7 linked regions of the Homo sapiens genome follow. The protein of the gene in region 1 interacts with the protein of each later gene in a biochemical or structural test. Each region holds a gene or a part of one and is shown in the gene's direction. Other genes may lie near its edges. The genes, in order: SRPK1, CDC42EP4, UBE2E2, SEC23B, FAM76B, SETD3 and METTL14.

Region 1 (3,500 bases):
AGACTACCTACTATGTTTGTTTGGGAGGGTAATTAATTTTTTTCCCCTTTACTTCCCTAGATTCTCCATAAATGGTAGTGTGTGGTACAGAACACATATAGTGGCTAGAATTATATCGGGTGTTACCTTATGCTACCAAACCTGAAAATTTTAATACATATGCAGAGTCCCAAATAAGGGGACAAGGAAAAACCATCTTCCCTAGATGTTTAAATTCTAATTTATTCCATCCTATACCAGTTAGTACTAATAGTCCTTAGGTCAAACATCAGCCCCACCGATGCTGTTCTGCTGCAGTTTGACCTATAAGAGCAGGAACAAGCAAACCCTTACCCCTGACTAGTGTGTGCATAGTTTGTTACGAGTCGTGGTAGGACAGAAGCCTGAGTACCATGTCCTCTACTCTGGCTTTCCACAGCCCTAACTCATGGGATAATACCTGATAATTTTATCTGTCAAGTATATCAATCCTATCATAAGCCAAAATAGGTTGCAAGAATTAAGTGTAAAGTAACAATTTCAAGGGAATTCCTTGGTATAGGAAAAATATTTAAAGGACCAATATTTTACTTGGAAGTTTACTTAAGTTTCTAAGAACTTTAAGAAGCTCTCTTAGAAATTATAGTCTAAGTTTTTCCTTAGTATTCTTATTTTTGTTATTGTTAATGGTAAAAACACATTTGCAGGTCCTGCCAAAAACCAGCAGAAAATTCTTGGCATGCAGGTACTTGTTACCAAACCATAAATTCAGTCAAAACTGCTCAAAGGTTGTAGGGAAGTCATAAATGTGAAGTCCCCTTTAAATGACACCACTAACTCCTTTACATGAGAAAGATAAAACCTGAAACCTTCACAAATTCCCAGATAATATGGACGTCTCTAGCATGTTATTTCCCCTATAAGATACATAACTGGAAGTTTAAACCTTAATGATTCTGTAACTACACGATAAAAGTATTTTCTAAAGCTTTTTTTCTGGCCAGGAGTATTATGCCCGGGTGTGGTGGTTCACGCCTGTAATCCCAGCACTTCAGGAGGCTGAGGTGGGTGGATCGCTTGAGCCCAGGAGTTTGAGACCAGCCTGGGCAACATGGCAAAACCCCATCTCTACAAAAAATACAGGCCAGGCACAGTGGCTCACACCTGTAATCCCAGCATTTTGGGAGGCCAAGGCGGCAGATCACTTGAAGTCAGGAGTTCGAGACCAGCCTGGCCAACATGTGAAACCCTGTCTCTACTACAGATACAAAAATTAGCTGGACCTGGTGGTATGCACCTGTAATCCCAGCTACTCAGGAGGCTGAGACACAAGAATCACTGGAACCCAGGAAGTGGAGGTTGCAGTGAGCCGAGATCATGCCATTGCACTCCAGCCTGGCGACAGAGCAAGACTCCATCTCAAAAAAAAAAAAAAGTTTTATATTCTTAACTTCTGTCACCTGCAGAGAGAAAAAAAAAAGGGGGGGGGCAGTAGATCTACCTGAGGTGTGTGTACTGGTTGGTCCCAGACTCACCTCCTGGTTAAGAGGCTGCATGCCTCCCTGGTTGTGCTCATGGTCCATATTCATACTGTGATGTTTACAGATCATCAAGCAGCTATACTTTAAAATGTTTGTGCTAATCTTTACTTTTAAAAAGTGATTTTAGGAAGAAATTAAAAGCTTTAGACAAGACATAAGATCATTGGTTTTCATCTGAGTTTTAGCTCATATTAGCCCTGAAGTTTCAAGTTAGGCCATTCATGCTTTTTGAAGTTCTATTTTCTCATCTTTAAAATGGGGTATCAGCCAGGTGGTGGCTCAGGCCTGTAATCCCAACACTTCGGGAGGCCAAGGCAGGAGGATTGCTTGAGCCCAGGAGTTTGAGACCAGCTTGGCAGTATGCCAAGACCTCATCTCTACAAAAAATGTTTTAAGTCAGCCAGGTGTGGTGGCACATGCCTGAAATCCCAGCCACTGGGGAGGCTGAGACAGAATGATCACAAATAATAGTTCTAGAATGCCTAACACATATTTGGACAGTTTTTTATCTTACCTAAAGAACCTACCTGAACCTAGATATATAGACAAAATAGAACTAAAGATGAAGATAAGCCTCCAAAATCCAGAATGGGACTTGCCAGACACTATCGGGTGACCAACCACCTGAAATAATTCTTGGCCTTCCCAGTCAGTCTTCCTTCAGTATCCTTGGTTTTATTTGTAGTTACTTTTAAACAGCTAGTCCTTGAAAAAGCTATTCATAGAAAAACCTCTTTTACAGCTTGTCCTTGATCTGTTCTTCTTACCCTTCTATTTTAGACCACATTGTGCACATTATAGAGCTGATAGGCAGAATTCCAAGACGCTTTTCCCTCAGTGGGAAATATTCACAAGACTTCTTCAGTCACAGAGGTAGTATTGTTATGTAGGACCCAGGGATACTTCAGGAAGCAGAGCATTCACACCAAGATTGTTTTTAGTTATCACTGAATCCACAAAAATTTGACTTTGTGAATTCTCCATTAGATGGATAGAGTCTTCCTCTTCCCATTTAGGATAGAAAGTAAGCCTGATAGGCTTTACAAAGAGATGTGCATGCTGCTCCTTCTGCTGTTTTCTAGAGCTGCATTTGTTACTCTTGTTACGGATCTTTTTTTTCCCCCCTCTTGAAATGTTTGAAATATACAGATCACATTGCATTGATCATAGAACTTCTGGGGAAGGTGCCTCGCAAGCTCATTGTGGCAGGAAAATATTCCAAGGAATTTTTCACCAAAAAAGGTAAAGTAAATGTGTTCCCAGACATTAAGGAGGCAGAAGTGTTTAAAAATGAAGAGGTAAGCACATATTCCCAATGTCCTACAGAATGATGGGCCTGCCTTGAATGCTAACCTGTGACTTAGCAAAGAGATAAAAAAGAGGTAAAAAAAGTGGTCAAGAGCAGAGACTGAGCCGGGCGCGGTGGCTCATACCTGTGATCCCAGCACTTTGGGAGACCAAGGTGGGCGAATCACAATATCAGGAGTTTGAGAACAGCCTGGCCAACCCGGTGAAACCCCGTCTCTACTAAAAATACAAAAAATTAGCTGGGAAGAGTGGCGGGCGCCTGTAATCCCAGCTACTCAGGAGGCTGAGACAGGAGAATCACTTGAATCTGGGAGGCGGAGGTTGCAGTGAGCCAAGATCGCACCATTGCCCTCCAGCCTGGGCAACAAGAGTGAAACTCTGTCTCACAAAAAAAAAAAAAAAGCAGAGACTGGAGCCAGGCATGGTGGCTCACGCCTGTAATCCCAACACTTTGGGAGTCCAAGGCAGGAGGATCACTTGAGTCTAGGAGTTCAAGACCAGCCTGGGCAGCACAGGAAAACCCTGTCTCTACAAAAAAAAATTTTTAATTAACTGGGCATGGTGGTACACACCTGTGGTCGCAGCTACTCCGAAAGCTGGGGTGGGAGGATCACTTGAGCCTGGGAGGTCAAGGCTGCAGTGAGCCATGATTGCCACTGCACTCCAGCATGG
Region 2 (2,439 bases), on another chromosome or scaffold:
ACTGAGGAGCGAGGTGGGGACTAGTCATTGGATCAAGGGGTCTGCACTGGGTAGGGCGTCATGTGGATGGGTTTTGTTTTAGCCAAGAGGTGAAGGATGGACAGGAGGGAGACCAACAGGGAGACCTGTCAGGCTGATGTCAGGGGCCAGGTGGGGTGTGGTGGGCTTGTGTGACGCAGCGGCAGGCATGCGGAGGAAGCACCCAGCATCTGAGTTTTGCAGTGGGAAGAGTGGGTCTGGACTGGGGGTGCCTCTCAGAACTGTGCTGCTGGCTGGACTGGGAGGCAGGCAGGTACCTGGTGTCCAAGCATCACCTCTCACCCACCATACTTTGTTAAATCCCTGCACCCATCTCTCCCCAACCTGCCCAGCTCTGCTGGGCTTAGTATTTGGGGCAAGCCCCTCTAGGGAAGAGAGGGGCTGGTTTGGCCCCAATGCTGAACTTCAACTTGGCCCTTGTCAGGAGCTGTGAGAGTGGTGCCTCCAGGCTCCTGGGCTCTACCTCTGCTGTTTTTTGGATTTCTGGTGAATCACCTAGGAATCAGTCTGCAGATCCTGGGGGGACGAAGTCATTTAGGGTCCAGTCCCTGCCTCCCACTCCCCTAATGATGAAAGAAACTGGAAGTTGCCCAATCTTGATCTCCCCGAGACACCAGAAGGTGGACCCTCAGCAAAGAGCCTGGGGCTCCACAGTGGAGACGTCACAGGCGGGATCCTCATTTATGGGATACCAAGCGAAGGCTGAAAGGCTGGGGAGCTGGTTCTGTGGGTCCCAGCAGCCCCACCCCAGTTCTGATTCAGAAAGAGGACTGTGCCGCCCACGCAGGGGGAGGAGCTGGTCAGCCTCTGTCTCCCTGAGCCCGTCCTGTCCTTTCCCTTCTCTCTCTGAGGACCAGGACTCAGGGTGGGGTGTCCACTAACTCCACAGGGATCGAGGTTAGACAGCAGGAAGAACTTACAGCACATCTCCAGGCTGACTGTTCATAGGAGCCAACTCATAGACTCCATCTCTTCCCTGGCTTGCTGCCTGGAATTGCTGGATTTACCTTCGCGTCCTTAAATGTGGTCATGTTTACTCTGGCAGCATCCTGGCTTGCAGGGGCAGGGGAGGCATTGTCTTCTGCAAGAAAGGTTCTGTCTCTCTCAAGTTTCAGGGAAAGTGTGTCCGAGGCTACTGGAACTCTAACCAGATTTGCAAAATCACTCCTCTACTCTGAATGCCTGCGGATGAAGAAACAGGCAGGGTTATACCATGGATTGCTGGCTTATTTCACAGCATTTAACTTTGGTAGGAGCGCTGGGGTTTAAATGACAGTCCCCTGGCAAAGAGGCTTTTGTGCCGTGTGGCCAGCCCGCGTTAATCCTTTGCCTCTCATTCTCTGCTTGCAGCCTTATGATCTCCTCATTGCGTCCCCCTCTGCCCACTGGACTTGGACTTCAGATCTGACCCCAGACCTGCCGGCTACCTCGGGAGGGCCCACCTCCCCGCCCATCCAGCAAGATGCCAATCCTCAAGCAACTGGTGTCCAGCTCGGTGCACTCCAAGCGCCGTTCCCGAGCGGACCTCACGGCCGAGATGATCAGCGCCCCGCTGGGCGACTTCCGCCACACCATGCACGTTGGCCGGGCCGGAGACGCCTTTGGGGACACCTCCTTCCTCAATAGCAAGGCTGGCGAGCCCGACGGCGAGTCCTTGGACGAACAGCCCTCTTCTTCATCTTCCAAACGCAGTCTCCTGTCCAGGAAGTTCCGGGGCAGCAAGCGGTCACAGTCGGTGACCAGGGGGGAGCGGGAGCAGCGTGACATGCTGGGCTCCCTGCGGGACTCGGCCCTGTTTGTCAAGAATGCCATGTCCCTGCCCCAGCTCAATGAGAAGGAGGCCGCGGAGAAGGGCACCAGTAAGCTGCCCAAGAGCCTGTCATCCAGCCCCGTGAAGAAGGCCAATGACGGGGAGGGCGGCGATGAGGAGGCGGGCACGGAGGAGGCAGTGCCCCGTCGGAATGGGGCCGCGGGTCCACATTCCCCTGACCCCCTCCTCGATGAGCAGGCCTTTGGGGATCTGACAGATCTGCCTGTCGTGCCCAAGGCCACGTACGGGCTGAAGCATGCGGAGTCCATCATGTCCTTCCACATCGACCTGGGGCCCTCCATGCTGGGTGACGTCCTCAGCATCATGGACAAGGAGGAGTGGGACCCCGAGGAGGGGGAGGGTGGTTACCATGGCGATGAGGGCGCCGCTGGCACCATCACCCAGGCTCCCCCGTACGCCGTGGCGGCCCCTCCCCTGGCAAGGCAGGAAGGCAAGGCTGGCCCAGACTTGCCCTCCCTCCCCTCCCATGCTCTGGAGGATGAGGGGTGGGCAGCAGCGGCCCCCAGCCCCGGCTCAGCCCGCAGCATGGGCAGCCACACCACACGGGACAGCAGCTCCCTCTCCAGCTG
Region 3 (3,500 bases), on another chromosome or scaffold:
ACAACTCAGGGTTTAGAGGTACCAGCCCCCTGTGCCATCAAAAATTCATGTATAATGTTTGACTTTCTCCAAATTTAACTACTAATAATACCCTACTTTTGACAAGAAGCCTTACTCATAACATAAACATTTCAATTAATACATATTTTGCATGTTATATGTATATATGCTGTATTCTTACAATAAAGTAAGCTAGAAAAAAGAAAATATTAAGAAAGTCATAAGGAAGAGAAAATGCATTTACAGTATTGTACCGTGTTTATTGTTACCCTGAGTTTACATCATCTGTTTACAAGGTGAAATGGCAGCTAACCACAACTACAGACCTCAATCTACAGTGTATATCAAGTAATTCAACTTTTTCTTGTAATGGCATGACTTTTCTCTGCTTCTTGGGACTACTTCCAGAATCACTAGTGGCCCTTCGTATGGATCCCATGGTGTTATTTAAGGTTTACGGTATTGCACAAACACAATGAAAAATATGCGAGAACTGAGAGAGAGCACTTTTTATGGCAATACGCAATTTGCTGGAGAGATGAACTGCTCATGCAGAGATGATTTTTGTCACGTGGCATTTTAGGCATTTTAAGCAGCTATTGGCAATAGCTGAGTTCATTGCAATAGCAACAGGAGGTGGCTACAAAATTATTACAGTAGTACAGTATGTATTATAGTTACTTTTATGCAGTTATGATTTAATACTCTATGTTTGTGTTTGCTTACATTTCTTTTAAAATGCTCATGGCATCATGTATGGTTTGTGGGTATAATTTTAACTTTGTAAGAGATCGGTATATATTTTCTGGTAGTAAATAAGAAAAACTAATATCTGTGTATATTTTGTGCACTCATGACGTTCCTTTTTCTTAATTTTTCAATATTTCTAGGCTAGTGCGTTGTCAGCGAGTTTTTTCAAATTGTCACAAATCTCAAATTTTTCTAATGTATTTTCTTGAAATTTAGTTCATCTAAGTTGACCCACGCAATGCAGACCCTGTTGTTCAGGGGTCAACTGTATATTCAACTTAACTAGATGAGCCTATATTCTCATCCGAAGGAATTACTCATACTCATCAGCAGTACATAGGAGTTCTAGTTTTTCCACATCCTCATCAACATGTGGTTTTGTCAGGCATTGATTTTTGCATTTGCATTTTGTAAAATAATATTACTGAATTTTGATTTTCAGTTTCATTTCCCCGATTTTGATGATATTGAGCATTTTTCATATGATTATTGGCCATTTATGTTTCCCTTTTTTTGGAAATGTCTATGTCTTTTTTAATAGAGTCTTTTTTTAGTTGATTCTTAGGAACTTGTGTATTCTCAACACTAGTATTTGGTCACTTTTATATGATCCAAATATCTTTTCTGTTTGCAGCTTGCCTTGTCACTCTCTTCAGTCAAACTCTAATATTTTGACTTTTGCATTTAAATATTTAATCCATCTGCAACAGCATTTGTTTATTTACTGAGGGTAAAAATCCAGTTTCTCTGTTTTTCAAATATAAAAACTTTTCCTAGTCCCATCAGTTGACATAAATCAGGTTTTCATATATGTGTGGAAAAGTTTGAGGAATTTCTTTGAGCTTCCGAAAAAATTTTAAAATCAACTTGTCGAGTTTTGGTTTTAAAAAGCAGTTGGACTTTTTAATTGGAATTATGATGAATCAATTTGGAGAAACTGACATTTGATATCAGGTCTCCCTACCCATAAACTTGGTATCTCCCTCCATTTATTTAACTCTTATGAGTACTTTTCAATAAGTTTTATATAATTTTCTCCATAAAGATCTTACACATCTTTTATGACTTTATTCATAGCTTCCCTACAAGACCTATTGCAACTCATTTAAAAATACATTTTCTAGGGGCCAGGTGTGGTCCAGTGATGCATGCCTGTAAACCCAGCTACTTGAGAGGCTGAGACCCAAGAATGGCTTGAGCCCATTCTTAGGATTAGCTAAATCCTAATCTCATTTTGCCCTTCTTTTCACCTGAGAGAACTAATACAATTCACTCGACTCATGTGGGCCATATTGTTTTCAGCAAAATTCTCTGAAACTCAGAGACATGTGTACTGCTAGTAGCCATGTGGCTTCTTCACTTGCTTTGTTATTAATTCATCATCATCCAACATACTGACTTAAGAGGCACTAAGGACAAGGTACAACCTGTTCCTCAAGCACCTTCTAGGGAGGGTAGAAAGAAGCATTAGTTGCAAAACACAGTTATAAAACAAAATGATACATCTTATCCTCTACAGACCTCATTGGTCATGATGTATGGGTCAGGAAGTCCTTTGGGTGGGGAGAAAGAAAGGAAGATTCAGATGGGATATGATATTTGAGCAGAGACTTTGGATGATGAACATTGAACCTCCTTTGTGTTCTCAGTTGTTAGCAAAGGGATCAGACTAGTCATTCCCCAGAGGTCCTTCTAACTTTGAAATTTTGTCTCTGACATCACAAATAATTTCATGCTTTCATTAAACATTTGTGTTTCTACCTCTGGCCTGTAGTCCTTGGACTCTTGTTCCATAGGCGTAGGGTTGTGAATGGCAAAAGAGGATCTTGGTGTTCTTTTATGAAGTGATACCAACATATTTCACTTCTAGGATAATGACAATATTGGCAATATGAATCTTAACATGAGAGTTAACTGATTAACTTTTTGTGTTTTTATGGAATTGCTCAATTGGTTATCATAAATAGATTTTGTTAAATTCCAGCCTTTATGTAATTTCTAAGCACATTTCATTTGTATGTCTTATTTCAGTGCTGGACCCAAAGGAGACAACATTTATGAATGGAGGTCAACTATATTGGGACCCCCAGGATCTGTCTATGAAGGAGGGGTGTTCTTTCTTGACATTACCTTTTCACCAGACTATCCGTTTAAACCCCCTAAGGTCAGTATGAAGTTTTCATTGATTTTTAGCAATATGGATTATATTTCTAGATACATATACTTATTCTTAAATATGCATTCTAGGGATGCATGTCTATTCTGTTGTCACAGACAGCTTCCCAGGATTGATAGTGTATAAAATGAAACAATGTAAAAAATTGTAGGTTATTCCTCCACCCCAGCTTTTTACTGATTTCATTGTTTTTTTTCTCCTCCTTTTTCTCCTCATTATCTCCTTTCTTTGTTATATGTTTTAATGTAACATTAAAACACCATGTTTTATGGGTGAAAATGGGGGCATAAGGTTGGGCCAGGGTGAGTACCAGAGCCCAGAAAATCAGACGTAGCCTGGAGCCAGAGCCCAAGCAAGCTAAGCGCAAGAATCAGGCTAAAGGCAGAGGAAGCCTTGCCTAGGCAAGGTTTATAGCACCAGCTATGGAGGTTTGAGTTTTGGTGCCTCTAGAGTTCAGCTGCTCACATGTAGCACACATGGACTAGTATGGAAAGTATGACCCACAGAGACTTAAAAGTTGTGTTAAAAAATTTCGTAAAGTATTTATAATAGTTCATTAATGAAACTAATCAAT
Region 4 (3,500 bases), on another chromosome or scaffold:
TATGCCATTTTGTATGAGGGACTTGAGTATCTATGGAATTTGGTATTGGGAGGAGTGGTCTTGGAACCAATCTCACAGATACCGAGGGCCGACTGTACTAAGGATGAAGCTTTCTTTGCCTTAAGCTCATCTCCTTATCGACATTTCTTTTGCAACCCCTGATCCTGTTCATTCACTTGTTTATTGAGCACCTTCTTGTGCAAGTGAGGGGTTCTAAGGATAAAGACAGTGACATTGCTCTCACCTTCCCAAAGTCCTGAGCGTGCTGAACGCGAGTGTTCTTATGAACTTCTGGACCCTGGTGAGCTCGTGGGCATTTCCCATAGGCCAACAGTCAATCACAGCATTTAGACCTGGAAAACGGTAACTGCTACTTTGAGAAGGAGTGAGCAGGCTACAGAAGGAGGCATCTGATGAGAATCCTCTGCCTGGAGCCATATTAATGGCTCTGTTAAGACACATTGCACACTTGCTGTAGCCTCTTTCTCCATTTTTCCTCTCCATTGTCTTCTTGTTCTCCTAAATAACATGCGAAAGCACTTCACTTTATTTATAAAGGTATATGAATCAGTTAATGAATGTTTCTTGATTTCCTGTGTATACAAGATATTTTCTAGACCAGTTGTGGATGAGTATAAAAGAAGGAAGGGTGATAAAATGTGTAGCGTAGTCAGGGAGACAGATCGTCTGCTTTCCACAGTTTAGCATATGGCTTCTCCTCACTGCCTCATCAACACTCATACTTTGATTCTTACAGCTTTTGTCTCCTTTGCCAAGGGTACCCCAATTCAGGGCCCAGGGGGAGCAGGGGATGGGGGTGAGACAATTGCACGCAAGTCTGTATGACTACTGCTCACCAGAGGAGTGTAATATGTGTGCCGTTAGGAAAGGAGATGGGGGAGTGGAGTCTGTGTGGGCAGCCAACAAATCCCTTTCCTTACCAGATGTGCGGAGATGAGAGGCTAGACTGAGTGATAACAGTGGAAGTGGAAAAGGAGGGAGTCCACCGCTCCTTGGGATGAGTAATCCATGGGCTTTGTTAACTAGTTGATATAGAAGAGAGGAGGCATGAGTGACGCCTGACATTCCTGGGGGAATGCGCAGGCGGGGGCATTTTCCTCCTGCTTCTCCTCCTGCCGGTAGCTCTGCTTTGCTCTCCCTCTGAAGCTTGTCATTTTTGATATTAGACTTCTTCACTAGAAACAAGCTCTGGGTGGCGATGGTAGAATGTCAGTGTCAGTGAAGGCTGTTATTACAGTTTCCACAATAGTTTTGGTTGGTTTGTTTCTGTGTAGACCATAGCCCAGTGGCGTAAAGCTGGCTACCAGGACATGCCCGAGTATGAAAACTTCAAGCACCTTCTGCAGGCACCACTGGATGATGCTCAAGAAATTCTGCAAGCACGCTTCCCGATGCCACGTTACATCAACACGGAGCATGGAGGCAGTCAGGTGAGTGAGCTGAGTTCTAACTCCAGTGGTTTGTTCGTTTTATGATAGATTGTTATTGCTATACATCTAAACAGGATGGTTAATATTTTATGTGATGACATAAATTGACACACAGGTAATCTTCCAAATATGACTTCTTTTTAAATGAGTGGTCAGGCCAAGCGCGGTGGCTCACACCTGTAATCCCAGCACTTTGGGAGGCCGAGGCGGGCGGATCATGAGGTCAGGAGATCGAGACCATCCTGGCTAACATGGTGAAACCCCGTCTCTACTAAAAATACAAAAAATTAGCTGGGCGTGGTGGCGGGCACCTGTAGTCCCAGCTATTCGGGAGGCTGAGGCAGAAGAATGGCGTGAACCCGGGAGGCAGAGCTTGCAGTGAGCTGAGATCGTGCCACTGCACTCCAGCTGGGGCTACAGAGTGAGACTCCGTCTCAAAAAAAAAAAAAAAATGAGTGGTCAAAATGTGCTTATGTAAAGGGATTGCCAAGATAAAATACATATTTTATGTTTTAGGATCCTTAAATGGAGAGCCAGTGGGCTTAAGCTAAAGAAATAGATTACTGTGCAGTAAAACAATTCTAATTAGATTACTGTGCAGTAAAACAATTCTAATTTAACCAAACAAATGTTGTAAAAACTTATCTTTTTTCTGTTACATTAATATTAATGTCACTTTTTAATCTTTAAATCTTTTTGTTGTTGTTGTTGTTAAAGGCTCGATTCCTTTTGTCCAAAGTGAACCCATCTCAGACACACAATAACCTGTATGCTTGGGGACAGGTAAGAAATCTTCAGGTATTTGGGGAGGATGCTAAGCTAGTTTTTTTTTAAACTTGTTTTAAAATTCTACAAATTGGATCTCTTTTGGCCTGGAGACAGAATAACTGCGTAAGTTGGGTATTTTGCTGGGGAGTGGCGGGGAGGGAAACAAGTTGAATAACATTACTGGGCCGGAGGTTGAGGGGGCTCCCTGGGTGTGTCCCCTTCCACAATATACAGCAGAACATACCAGGTTCAGGCCAGGGGACAGAGCACTGTACTGTGGCCTCCATGGTGGTGTCCTCCGTCACACAGCCTCATGGCCCCTAGTCCTCTCCCCACCAAGAATACAGGGCAACTTGTCACCATCGGTTTTGCCGCCTCCTCACTTTCCAGCCTAATTCCTTCCCTTTTCTTCCCCCAACCCCGCCTGATTACTACTTTATCTAACTGCTCCCAGCATTTATGTCTCTCTCAGATGAGTCTTTCCTTTCATTCTGTTTTCTTAAAACATTTTTAAATTAAATTTTTTTGAGATATTGTAAATTTACATATAGTTGTAAGAAATAATACAGAGAGATCACCTGTATCTTTTACCCATTTTCCCTTAGTGTTAACATCTTGCAAAAACTATAATACAGTATCACAACCGGGATATTGAGATTTTTAAGGTCAAGATGTGCAGCATTTCCATCACCACACTTATGCACTTTATTTCTATTATTGTTACATTGTAATATATAATGAAATAATTGTACAACTCACCATAATGTAGAATCAGTGGGAGCCCTGAGCTTGTTTTCCTGCAACTAGATGGTCCCAGCTGGGGGTGACGGGAGACGGTGACAGATCATCAGGCATTAGATTCTCATGAGGAGCATGCAACCTAGATCCCTCACATGCGTTGTTCACAATAGGGTTTGCACTCCTATTAGAATCTAATACTGCTACTGATCTGATGGGAGGTGGAGCTCAGGTGGTAATGCACGTGATGGGGGAGCAGCTGTAAATACAAATGAAGCTTCACTTACTTACCTGCCACTCACCTGGTGTGTGGCCTGGTTCCTAACAGGCCAAGGACTGGTACTATCCGTGGCCTGCAGTTGGGGACCCCTGATTTAAAGTGTATGGGAGGGTATGCATAGGTTATATGCAAATGCTACACCATTTTGTATTAGGGACTTGAGCATTTGTGGATTTGGGGATCCACAGGAGGTCCTAAAACCATTCCCCCACAGATACTGAGGGATGACTGTATATAGAAATACAATTGACTTTGGTATGTTT
Region 5 (2,165 bases), on another chromosome or scaffold:
ATAGTTCCCCAAAGATTTAATTTTAAGTTGCTTCTTAAAGAGTAATTTTATTTTTTATGTCATGTGGCTTCATATTAGTATTGTGTGAGTTACATGTTTTGCTTTATATTTTATAAAATTTTTTAAAAATTTTAATGTTTCTGCAATGATCCATGTATCTGCTTTCCCTATGTGTGGTTATCTAAGTTAATATTTATGTACAATGTAATTTGTAAATTTAAAGCAAATCTGAAAAAAATTAAATGATCTTTTTAATCCAATCTGTGATAATCTTTGAATAAATTGGAATCTACTATAAGATTCAGGCATTATAAGTAAATTGTCCTAAAGTCTTTAAAATTGTCTATAAAAGGTTAAGGTAGGGTGGGATAGGTTATATGAAGTTATTGACTATATTCTGATCCAGCGGTTTTCAGCCTGAAATAGAATTTATCTCCTAGTTATTATCAGTTCAGAGTTTTAGTTTGATTTTAAAGTATTGCTAGATACACTGTATAGAGTGAGTTGCTTCTCTTAATAATTTATGGGCAAAGATAAATTTGCTTCATGTAAAACTGTTACTAAATTTATAAGTTTTAAAGGTTTTGTTTTATACAAGCATTGATTGTGAATGTCATATCAAAGATTGGCTTTCTTAAGAACACATGATTGAAACAATTTTTTTTTAACATGACGTGTTTCAATAGACTGTTCTCATAGTTCATTATAAAGTGAATACCAAATAATTCTTTGTCCATTTTGAAAGCATAATATAGGGTAATTTTCAAGTGATACAAAAAGATTCAGTTAGAATCTTGTAAACTAAACCAGTTTATTTTTATGGGATCTTCATGTAATAATTTTCTTAAATTTAGTACTCTCAACCATGATAGATAATGCCTTAACATGGATTTTAACGTTTGCAGGATTTGCTAAATTCATAAGATAGTTATTACCTTTCTTTGAAATTTGTAATGTTTTATATTCTTGTTTCATAGCCATTTGTCAGTCCACAGTGGTCATTATGGTTTTACTTTTTGATAGTTCTTACACCTTGTTGGAGAAACTACAAAAGAAAGTTGTCCTCGTCCTTCCCCTTAGCTAACATCAAAATTAAAAAGTTGAATATTAATATTAGCTAACATTAAAATGGAAGGTAATTCAGTTTTAGTGTTAGCTAACATTAACAGTCTAATAATTTAGCTTTGTAAATTCCAAGGCTAAAACCCTTTCATGGGCTTCACAGTATTTAGTCCTAATTAAATACCCTTCTTTATTCCATGACCTTATTTTATAACTTAAATTTTTTTGCAATTGTATAAATTAGTAATTCAGTCCCAGTCCTGGATCTCTGTAGTGTTTTGACATAATAAACTGATATTCTTTAAATGTGGACCTGTAAGGAGATACTATGGTGTGGTGTATTGTGCTTTTAGCCTGTTTTCCACTATTAATTAGCATTTACCAGTAAGGGTCATTTTGACTCAAGTTATTTATGTATTAATAGCCTGTGAATATTGCAGTCCTTTTTAGATTATATTGGTCTAAATATGCATTCTGCAGTGAACCTGTTAAGCTGTTCACATGTATAGACTATTGAAATACTGTACTTGTACACATCTGACTGTTGACATTTTGTACTTTTTTCTAGATCCAATATTTCACAATAAAAAACTTGTCAAAGGCTTTGTATTAGTTTTCAATGGCTGCTGTAACAAACTCCCACACACTTAGTGTCTTAATACAACAAAAATTAATTCTTTTATGGTTCTGGAGGCCAGAAGTCCAAAATCAGGTTTACTGGTCTAAAGTCAAGGTATTGGCAGGATTGCTTCTTTCTGGAGGCTGTAGGGGAAAATCTGTTTTCTTGCCTTTTCCAGCTTCTAGAGCTGCATTCCTTGCATGCTATGAGCTCATTGACCTTTATCTTCAAAGCCCAAATTGTAGCATCTCAAATCTCTCTCTGCTGCTGTCATCATACCTTCTCAGAGTGTCTCCCTCTGTTCCCTCTCATAAGGACCTTATGAGAACATTATTGGCTCCACCTGCACAAACAACGTAGTTTTTCCATCTCGAGTTCTTAACCTAGTCACATCTGCAAAGTCCCTATTGTCATATAAGGTAATGTATTCACTGGTTCCAAGGGTTCGGGCATGGACATATTGGGGGACCATTATTGAGCCTAC
Region 6 (3,500 bases), on another chromosome or scaffold:
ACTAAGAATAAGGTGGATGTGAGCTAGGTGCTTGCTCAGTGCTCTCTCTTGGGTACGTTAAGTGGGGGATGTTTTTATGATGCCCCAGGGTTTGTCTGCTTTGAGAAGTGTACCTGCCTTGTACTTCTCACATTCATTATCATGGCTGTCATATGTCTGTCTTTTAAAAATAAACCAACCCCAGAACAGCAACAACAAAGTCCAAATCCTCTTTCTTGTGCAGACTAGTAGGTTAAGTTGAAAGAGAGAAGTGTTTCAGTACCATGCCTCTTATGTTACAGAATGCAGCAGTCCGGCGCCTGGCCCAGGAAAAGAGTGGGAAGAGTATGTGCAGATCCGGACTCTGGTTGAGAAAATACGGAAAAAGCAAAAAGGTAAAATTGCTAGAATGATAACTGTATTTTAATAATGTCATGTAGAAACTTGATTAGGTCAAAGGGTTGACGAGTAGTAAAGGTCTCAGCATCATTGGTGTCACTCTGAAAGGTCTTGTACTGGGGCTTGCAGACCGGGAGAGAGAGCAGTTAGCGGGATTTCTCCCCTTTCTGAGATGCTATTACCTGCTTCGGAAAGGGTGAGAATGTTGAGCTTTAGGAGAATAAAATGTTTGTATCTGGGTGCTAAAATGATACAATTTTATTTATTTACATTTTATAAAGTATTATACCGTTATTTCCTTTTGAGTTTCAGGACAGTGCATATAGTGTATATCGTCAATAACAAATAAATGCTGATTGGTTAATGCATTAGCAAGGTTTATAATGAACTCACACACATCTCAGTTAAATAAGAGGTGTGGTCATATTCCTTAAGCTGTGTTTTTACAGGACGTATGCAGTCGCCATTGTAATGATTCTCATCCAGGCTGGCGTGGGGCTAAGTGTGAGTTTGAAAAAGCTCATTCACTATACCTATTGTTTTTGTTCTGTAAAGCACAAAAAGTAAAGATTATTATGCAGGACCACATGGAAGGTAGAAGCAGAAAACATCCTAAGGAGCATGCATTGGAATGTGGGGCCCTTTCTTATTGTCATGAAGGGCCTCAGGAGAGGGTTTGTTTTTTATTTGCTCTCTTTAAGTAGTGGTTTTATTGCTCTTCCATACACATCTCTAAACATGTAGTCTTCAGTTTAGATGGTCTCAGACTCCAAAATGGTGAGTTCATAATGGGTGTTTTCAAACAGGTTCCTTCATAATGGGTTTATTTGCACTAAATAGGAGTCTGTGCTAATCCTTTGTCACCAAGTGGGTAGCGCCTTAGTTTCTCTTCTGCGTAGATACTGTTTACTATACCTGACACTGAGGGTAAAGCATTTGCCAGTTCTCAAGGAGTGAATAGGAAGTTCCGTCTTTGAATATTCCTCATTCTGGTCATTTTCGCCATTTAGCAGGTATCTTCGCATATCCAGCATGCCCTCTTCACATATCAGGTTGACTGTTAATTATGCTGTGGTAAGATGGCCACAGGCGCCTGAGCTATGTGCCACACCCAGCTTCCTCATAGTAAAGTTCCTGTTCCCCTCCTTTTATTCATCCAAACAGAATAGTTTTTTCTATGCATGTCTTTTCATCTTTTTGACTACATAGGACATGCTGAAAAGTTCAGAAATTAATATAACAGATGTCCAAGAATCTGCTACCCCAGCTGAGCACATGTCAAAGTTGTATTCTCATTGTCCTTTCTTTTATTCTCACCCACTGATCAGCTTTCCTTTCCCTTCCTCAGCCCTTGGTTTTGTTTTTGTATTTGTTTTTAAGAAATAAAACATCACAGATACAGCCAAAGCCTCACATTTTCATCCCCTTCCATTCCCTCCCTCCTTGCAGGGTGTTCATCTTCACTGTGAATGTTTTCTACTTCATAAATAACCCCATAAAAATATATGGTTGTAATTGATATTTGAAAAATTTACATAAATGGTGTCATATTACGTGATTTTTTAAAAGCCACTGTGGTACATTTAGTGTTATACTTATGTTGATACACATAGCTCTAGCTCATTTAAATTGCCTTACAGCCTTCTGGCTTACAGCTCTACAGTTTTGTGTTCTTAGAATCAGGGCTGTGGGGCTCATCCTTTCCCATGTCTCCTTGTGCACATACGCGAGCTACTCATTTTTGTTTTAATGGAAATTTTGTTAAAGCAAATGTGAACATGAGAGGTGGCATGTTTGACTTTTAAGGAGAAAACTGCTCTGTAAATCATAGTAGTGGTAATAGAAGCTCTCTGCCCTTTGCCATCGTATTACCTAATAGTACCTAATAGTCAATATTTATATTACCTAGTGTCAGTATATATTTCACTGTAACTGACAGGGAGTTTAGGATTTTAATTCTTCTTCCCTGTCACCAGTTAAGGTATGTACTGTGACCATCTGGTGATTAGTTTTGATTTCAAGATTGGCGTGTTAAGACTATTTCCAGTGTTAGTTATGGCCTGTTTTTATTTTCTGAGAGACGTGTGAATGATATGTGTCCTAAAAGTAGCTCTTGTTTTCTAAAACGTGGATTAATATAGGTCTGTCCGTTACTTTTGATGGAAAAAGAGAAGATTACTTTCCTGATCTAATGAAATGGGCCTCTGAAAATGGGGCTTCTGTCGAGGGTTTTGAAATGGTTAACTTCAAAGAAGAGGGCTTTGGTTTGAGAGCAACAAGAGATATCAAGGTGAGTTTATAAAATGTTGGTCTCAAGGGGTCTATGTGTTTGAACTGTGGTGTGCTGTAGAGGGCGCAGGGTGAAGAGGTAGACGTGTGGTGGGGGAGTTCTAGTTCTGAGCCTGTGGGCAGATAGGCAGCCTGGAAGGGCCTTGGGCTCATGTTCTAAGCAGCTCCTCCCACCTTATCCTCCTGGGGAGCCAAGTTGCTAATCAGTGACTGGGGCAAGTCAGTTCACATTTCTGAGCCTCTGTTAGGAGACCATAGAACATGCCTCACAGGATTTTGAGATTTACCTAAAGATAAGGAGGTGGACTCATGGTTTGGATTTTGTAACTTACTGGAGGTGAGTGGGTGGAGGACTGGCGGTGTGGGTATGCCTACTAGTGTCTGAAATGGATGACTATGAGGCTGAAGGTACTAGGAGCTCACTGAAATGGCAATACCAGTGGCAATAGGGAGAGGAGAGAGAAACAGCCACCTACTAAGGAAGAAGGGCTTTTTCTCCCCTCTTGGTTCTTGGTTCTTCTTTCCACATGAAGGGAGCAGCAGTCACTGGCCATGCCTGGCCTCTTCTCACCCCTCACTCATGTCTCTTCTAAGAGGAGGCACTCCTTCATCTGTTGGCCAAGTTTGGGAGAAGGAACTGGACTTGGCCTTTTTCTCGATGGGAGCTAGTTGCCCGTATGCATTCATTCCACTCTGCTCTCTGCCCTGGAAGCTTTGCAGGGGCAGGCCACATGTGGGGAGGGCGGTGGGGATCCAGCTCTGCCTGTAACTAGGTGGGGGAGTCTGTCTAATTCTGGGATTCAGTAGGTGATATTTTGGGTGACCATCTGTTG
Region 7 (3,500 bases), on another chromosome or scaffold:
GAATTTAGGTCATAGTGATGTTAATGACACCTGGTGCAAAATAAATATTTAGTAACAGGAACAGATATTGATCTTGATTTTGGAGATTTTAAAATAAAATTCTGCTGGGCGCAGTGGCTCATGTCTGTCATCCCAGCACTTTGAGAGACAGAGGCGGGCAGATCACTTGAGGCCAGGAGTTCAAGACCAGCCTGGCCAACATGGTGAAACCCCATCTCTACTAAAAATACAAAAATTAGCACAGCATGGTGGCACGTGCTTGTGGTCCCAGCCACTTGGGAAGCTGAGGCATGAGAATCACTTGAACCTGAGAGGCGGAGGTTGCAGTGAGCCAAGATTACCACACTGAACTCCAGCCTAGGTGAGACTCCATCTCAAAAAATAAAATAAAATAAAATTCTGAGTTTCATTTTGAGGTGTTATCTTACATTACCCAATAAGCATTCCTGAAAAGTGTATGTTTTATACTCTATCTTTTTTTTTTTTTGGTTCAGGGGGAACTCCCAACAGGATTTCCTGTGGTGGAAAGGAAGCTTGTTGGAAGGTTTTATTATTATTATTATTATTATTATTATTATTATTATTATACTTTAAGTTCTGGGATACATGTGCAGAACGTGCAGGTTTGTTACATAGGTATACATGTGCCATGGTGGTTTGCTGCACCCATCAACCCGTAATCTACATTAGGTATTTCTCCTAATGCTGTCCCTCCCCTAGCCCCCAACCTGCCTCTACTATATCTTGATATGTACTTGATCATCATACCAGCAATACTGTACTTATTTGTTTATTTTTCCCTCCTTTACTCTTAAAGTTGATGGGGATAGGGACTGTGTCTTATTCATGTTTTTATTTCCAGCAGCTAACCAGCACTGGCATATGGTAGACTTTCAGTTGTCACTGTGAGCAGTCATTTAGCTGGTATTTGTTTTATGTTAATGTATAACAGCTTCTAGGACATTAAGGTTCACATCTCTGTTTTCTAGATTATATAGAGATGAAAGTACCATTTTACCCAACAAAGAGATACACGTAACAATTTTAAGTTTGAACATTTTTACAGTTGTATTAAAAATAGAAATAAGATTTTATAAGACTCTCATTTGAAGTTAGCGTTTAGAAAATTTTCAATAGTATGTAGCTTTGTCAGAGAATAGAATATTGAGTTGGCAGGAATCAAATTGTGTTTTGGATTGTTTTGTGATTACAGAAGGTCTGAGTGCTTACAATTTAAAACCCCATGTCCATTGATGACAATAGAATGTAGAATTGGGAGATGATGTAATCCTTTCTATGTTTTGATATTTAACTATATATATGACATTGATATCCAAAAGATATATATGCATTCCGTATTATGGCTATGTATTTAAAGACTGGCATTTCTTTTTATATTCTACACTGAAACAAAATTACCTTGAAACCTTGGAATATAGTGTCTGAAACCTCTAGAAAGTTTTTTTTAATGCTGGTTGTTATTGTTAAGTATTGTTTATTTCTTTAAGTTAAGGATTTGTGTTTAAAATTCTTTTGTTTCTAGTGTTTACGAAAATGGGGTTACAGAAGATGTGAAGATATTTGTTGGATTAAAACCAATAAAAACAATCCTGGGAAGACTAAGACTTTAGATCCAAAGGCTGTCTTTCAGAGAACAAAGGTATTGCCTTTACTGATTTGTTTTTTTTAATTTTTGTGATTTTCTCTCAAGCTTTTCCAAATAACTGTATACTGTTTAATTAACTTCAGTGAAAAGGTCCTTTTCTTAGACTTGTAAAGACAGCATTGAGCATTACAGGAATACATCCAAATTAGTTTTAAAATGTTTTATTCATTATCTTAGATCAACCCCACCATGCTAGAAAGGGGAGTATATATTCCTCCATGTCCTAAATGCCATATTTCTAAGTTAGATAAAGGCTTTTGATCACACTCACCCGCAGAATTTTTCTAGGCTCAGAAAGAAGAGATAGCAAGATCGCAAGACTCGAGTTGGCCAGCTTAGAGACGTATTTCTCTCTTCTTTCCTTCTTTTTCCTTTACAAGAACCCCTGAGAACTTCTGTTTGTTGTGACTCTGCCCTGCTAGTATCAGGCTTTAACAGTTTTTGTTCTTACTTTTTAGGGAGCCTCTGGTGGGAGGGTCTTTCTTATTAAGTCTTTTTTGTACTGGAATCATGCCTAGGTAATGAAGCCTCCGTAAAATCCCAAGATGGGTTGGAGAGCTTCTGGGTTGGTGAACCTGTGGAGTTTCTGGGACGGTGGTCTGCTTGGAGAGGGCACAGCAGCTCCATGCCCCATGCCCCATGCCGCATACTTTTCATTATGTGTCTCTTCCATCTGGCTGTTTTTGAGTTGTATCCTTTTATAATAAATAGGTCATAGTAAGTAAAGAGCTTTCCTGAATTCCTCGAGCTGTTCTAGCAAATGATCTAACCTGAGGAAGAGGTCATGGGAACCTCTGATTTATAGCTGGTTGGTCAGAAGCACAGGTGACAATCTGGACTTGTGATTGGTATCTGAAGGTGGGGCATTCATGTGGTTCTCAGCCCTTGACCTGTGGGGTCTGCACTAACTAGGTAGATAGTGTCAGAATTGAATTGAATTATAGTGTTGATGGAGAAGTGGAGAATTGCTTGGTATGGGAAAAACCCACACATCTGGGATCAGAAGTGAAGTATTCTGAAAATACTGAGTGTTGTGAGTGCGTAGAAGAGTTTGTTTTTCTTATTTACATGGCAGTCTTTCCTCATCCAGAGATCCAGGTTTTCCTGTTGTTTTGTTGCCCATAGAACTGTATCTCACCAGAAATGGTGGCTCACTTCTGTAATCCCAGCACTTTGGGAGGCCGAGGTAGGTAGACCACTTGAGCCCAGGAATTTGAGACCAGCCTGAGCAACATGGCGAGACCCTGTCTTTACAAAAAATTTAAAAATCAGCCAGGTGTGGTGGTGTGTTCCTGTGGTCCCAGCTACTTGGGAGGCTGAGGCGGGGGATTGCTTGAGCCCAGGAGGTCAAGGCTGCAGTGAGCTGAGATCGTGCTACTGTACTCCAGCCTGGGTGACAGAGCGAGACCCAGTCTCAAAAAGAAGAGAAATAACTGTATCCCAAAGATTCCGAGAAATGAGGATTGTTTTAGAATTGAGGACATCAGAAATGTGAAAGGTTTTGGAATGACTGTTGATGAAAACAGATTAATTGGTCTGCTCTTGTTATTTAGGAACACTGCCTCATGGGGATCAAAGGAACTGTGAAGCGTAGCACAGACGGGGACTTCATTCATGCTAATGTTGACATTGACTTAATTATCACAGAAGAACCTGAAATTGGCAATATAGAAAAACCTGTAGAAATTTTTCATATAATTGAGCATTTTTGTCTTGGTAGAAGACGCCTTCATCTATTTGGAAGAGATAGTACAATTCGACCAGGTAGGACCTCAGTTAACAACAACTTTTATGATTCTTTGGGTTATGCATGTCAAGAAATAGGACATGGTGC

Evidence for each region.
Region 2: of the proteins of SRPK1 (region 1) and CDC42EP4, one has a biochemical effect on the other in vitro, tested with the Homo sapiens proteins (one large-scale study listed by IntAct).
Region 3: of the proteins of SRPK1 (region 1) and UBE2E2, one has a biochemical effect on the other in vitro, tested with the Homo sapiens proteins (one large-scale study listed by BioGRID and IntAct).
Region 4: of the proteins of SRPK1 (region 1) and SEC23B, one has a biochemical effect on the other in vitro, tested with the Homo sapiens proteins (one large-scale study listed by BioGRID and IntAct).
Region 5: of the proteins of SRPK1 (region 1) and FAM76B, one has a biochemical effect on the other in vitro, tested with the Homo sapiens proteins (one large-scale study listed by BioGRID and IntAct).
Region 6: of the proteins of SRPK1 (region 1) and SETD3, one has a biochemical effect on the other in vitro, tested with the Homo sapiens proteins (one large-scale study listed by BioGRID and IntAct).
Region 7: of the proteins of SRPK1 (region 1) and METTL14, one has a biochemical effect on the other in vitro, tested with the Homo sapiens proteins (one large-scale study listed by IntAct).

Annotation. Positions count from the first base shown.
Region 1 is NC_000006.12:35,837,599-35,841,098, reverse strand, and holds part of SRPK1 (SRSF protein kinase 1), read left to right. Parts: intron 1-2,669; coding exon 2,670-2,762; intron 2,763-3,500. UniProt on the Homo sapiens protein: Serine/arginine-rich protein-specific kinase which specifically phosphorylates its substrates at serine residues located in regions rich in arginine/serine dipeptides, known as RS domains and is involved in the phosphorylation of SR splicing factors and the regulation of splicing.
Region 2 is NC_000017.11:73,285,563-73,288,001, reverse strand, and holds part of CDC42EP4 (cdc42 effector protein 4), read left to right. Parts: intron 1-1,389; 5' UTR 1,390-1,501; coding exon 1,502-2,439. UniProt on the Homo sapiens protein: Probably involved in the organization of the actin cytoskeleton. May act downstream of CDC42 to induce actin filament assembly leading to cell shape changes. Induces pseudopodia formation, when overexpressed in fibroblasts.
Region 3 is NC_000003.12:23,496,827-23,500,326, forward strand, and holds part of UBE2E2 (ubiquitin-conjugating enzyme E2 E2), read left to right. Parts: intron 1-2,781; coding exon 2,782-2,914; intron 2,915-3,500.
Region 4 is NC_000020.11:18,552,940-18,556,439, forward strand, and holds part of SEC23B (protein transport protein Sec23B), read left to right. Parts: intron 1-1,295; coding exon 1,296-1,451; intron 1,452-2,168; coding exon 2,169-2,234; intron 2,235-3,500. UniProt on the Homo sapiens protein: Component of the coat protein complex II (COPII) which promotes the formation of transport vesicles from the endoplasmic reticulum (ER).
Region 5 is NC_000011.10:95,768,453-95,770,617, reverse strand, and holds the end of FAM76B (protein FAM76B), read left to right. Parts: 3' UTR 1-1,665; downstream 1,666-2,165. UniProt on the Homo sapiens protein: Negatively regulates the NF-kappa-B-mediated inflammatory pathway by preventing the translocation of HNRNPA2B1 from the nucleus to the cytoplasm.
Region 6 is NC_000014.9:99,460,360-99,463,859, reverse strand, and holds part of SETD3 (actin-histidine N-methyltransferase), read left to right. Parts: intron 1-281; coding exon 282-374; intron 375-2,519; coding exon 2,520-2,668; intron 2,669-3,500. UniProt on the Homo sapiens protein: Protein-histidine N-methyltransferase that specifically mediates 3-methylhistidine (tele-methylhistidine) methylation of actin at 'His-73'. Histidine methylation of actin is required for smooth muscle contraction of the laboring uterus during delivery.
Region 7 is NC_000004.12:118,702,392-118,705,891, forward strand, and holds part of METTL14 (N(6)-adenosine-methyltransferase non-catalytic subunit METTL14), read left to right. Parts: intron 1-494; coding exon of another isoform or gene 495-544; intron 545-1,543; coding exon 1,544-1,660; intron 1,661-3,219; coding exon 3,220-3,430; intron 3,431-3,500. UniProt on the Homo sapiens protein: The METTL3-METTL14 heterodimer forms a N6-methyltransferase complex that methylates adenosine residues at the N(6) position of some mRNAs and regulates the circadian clock, differentiation of embryonic stem cells and cortical neurogenesis.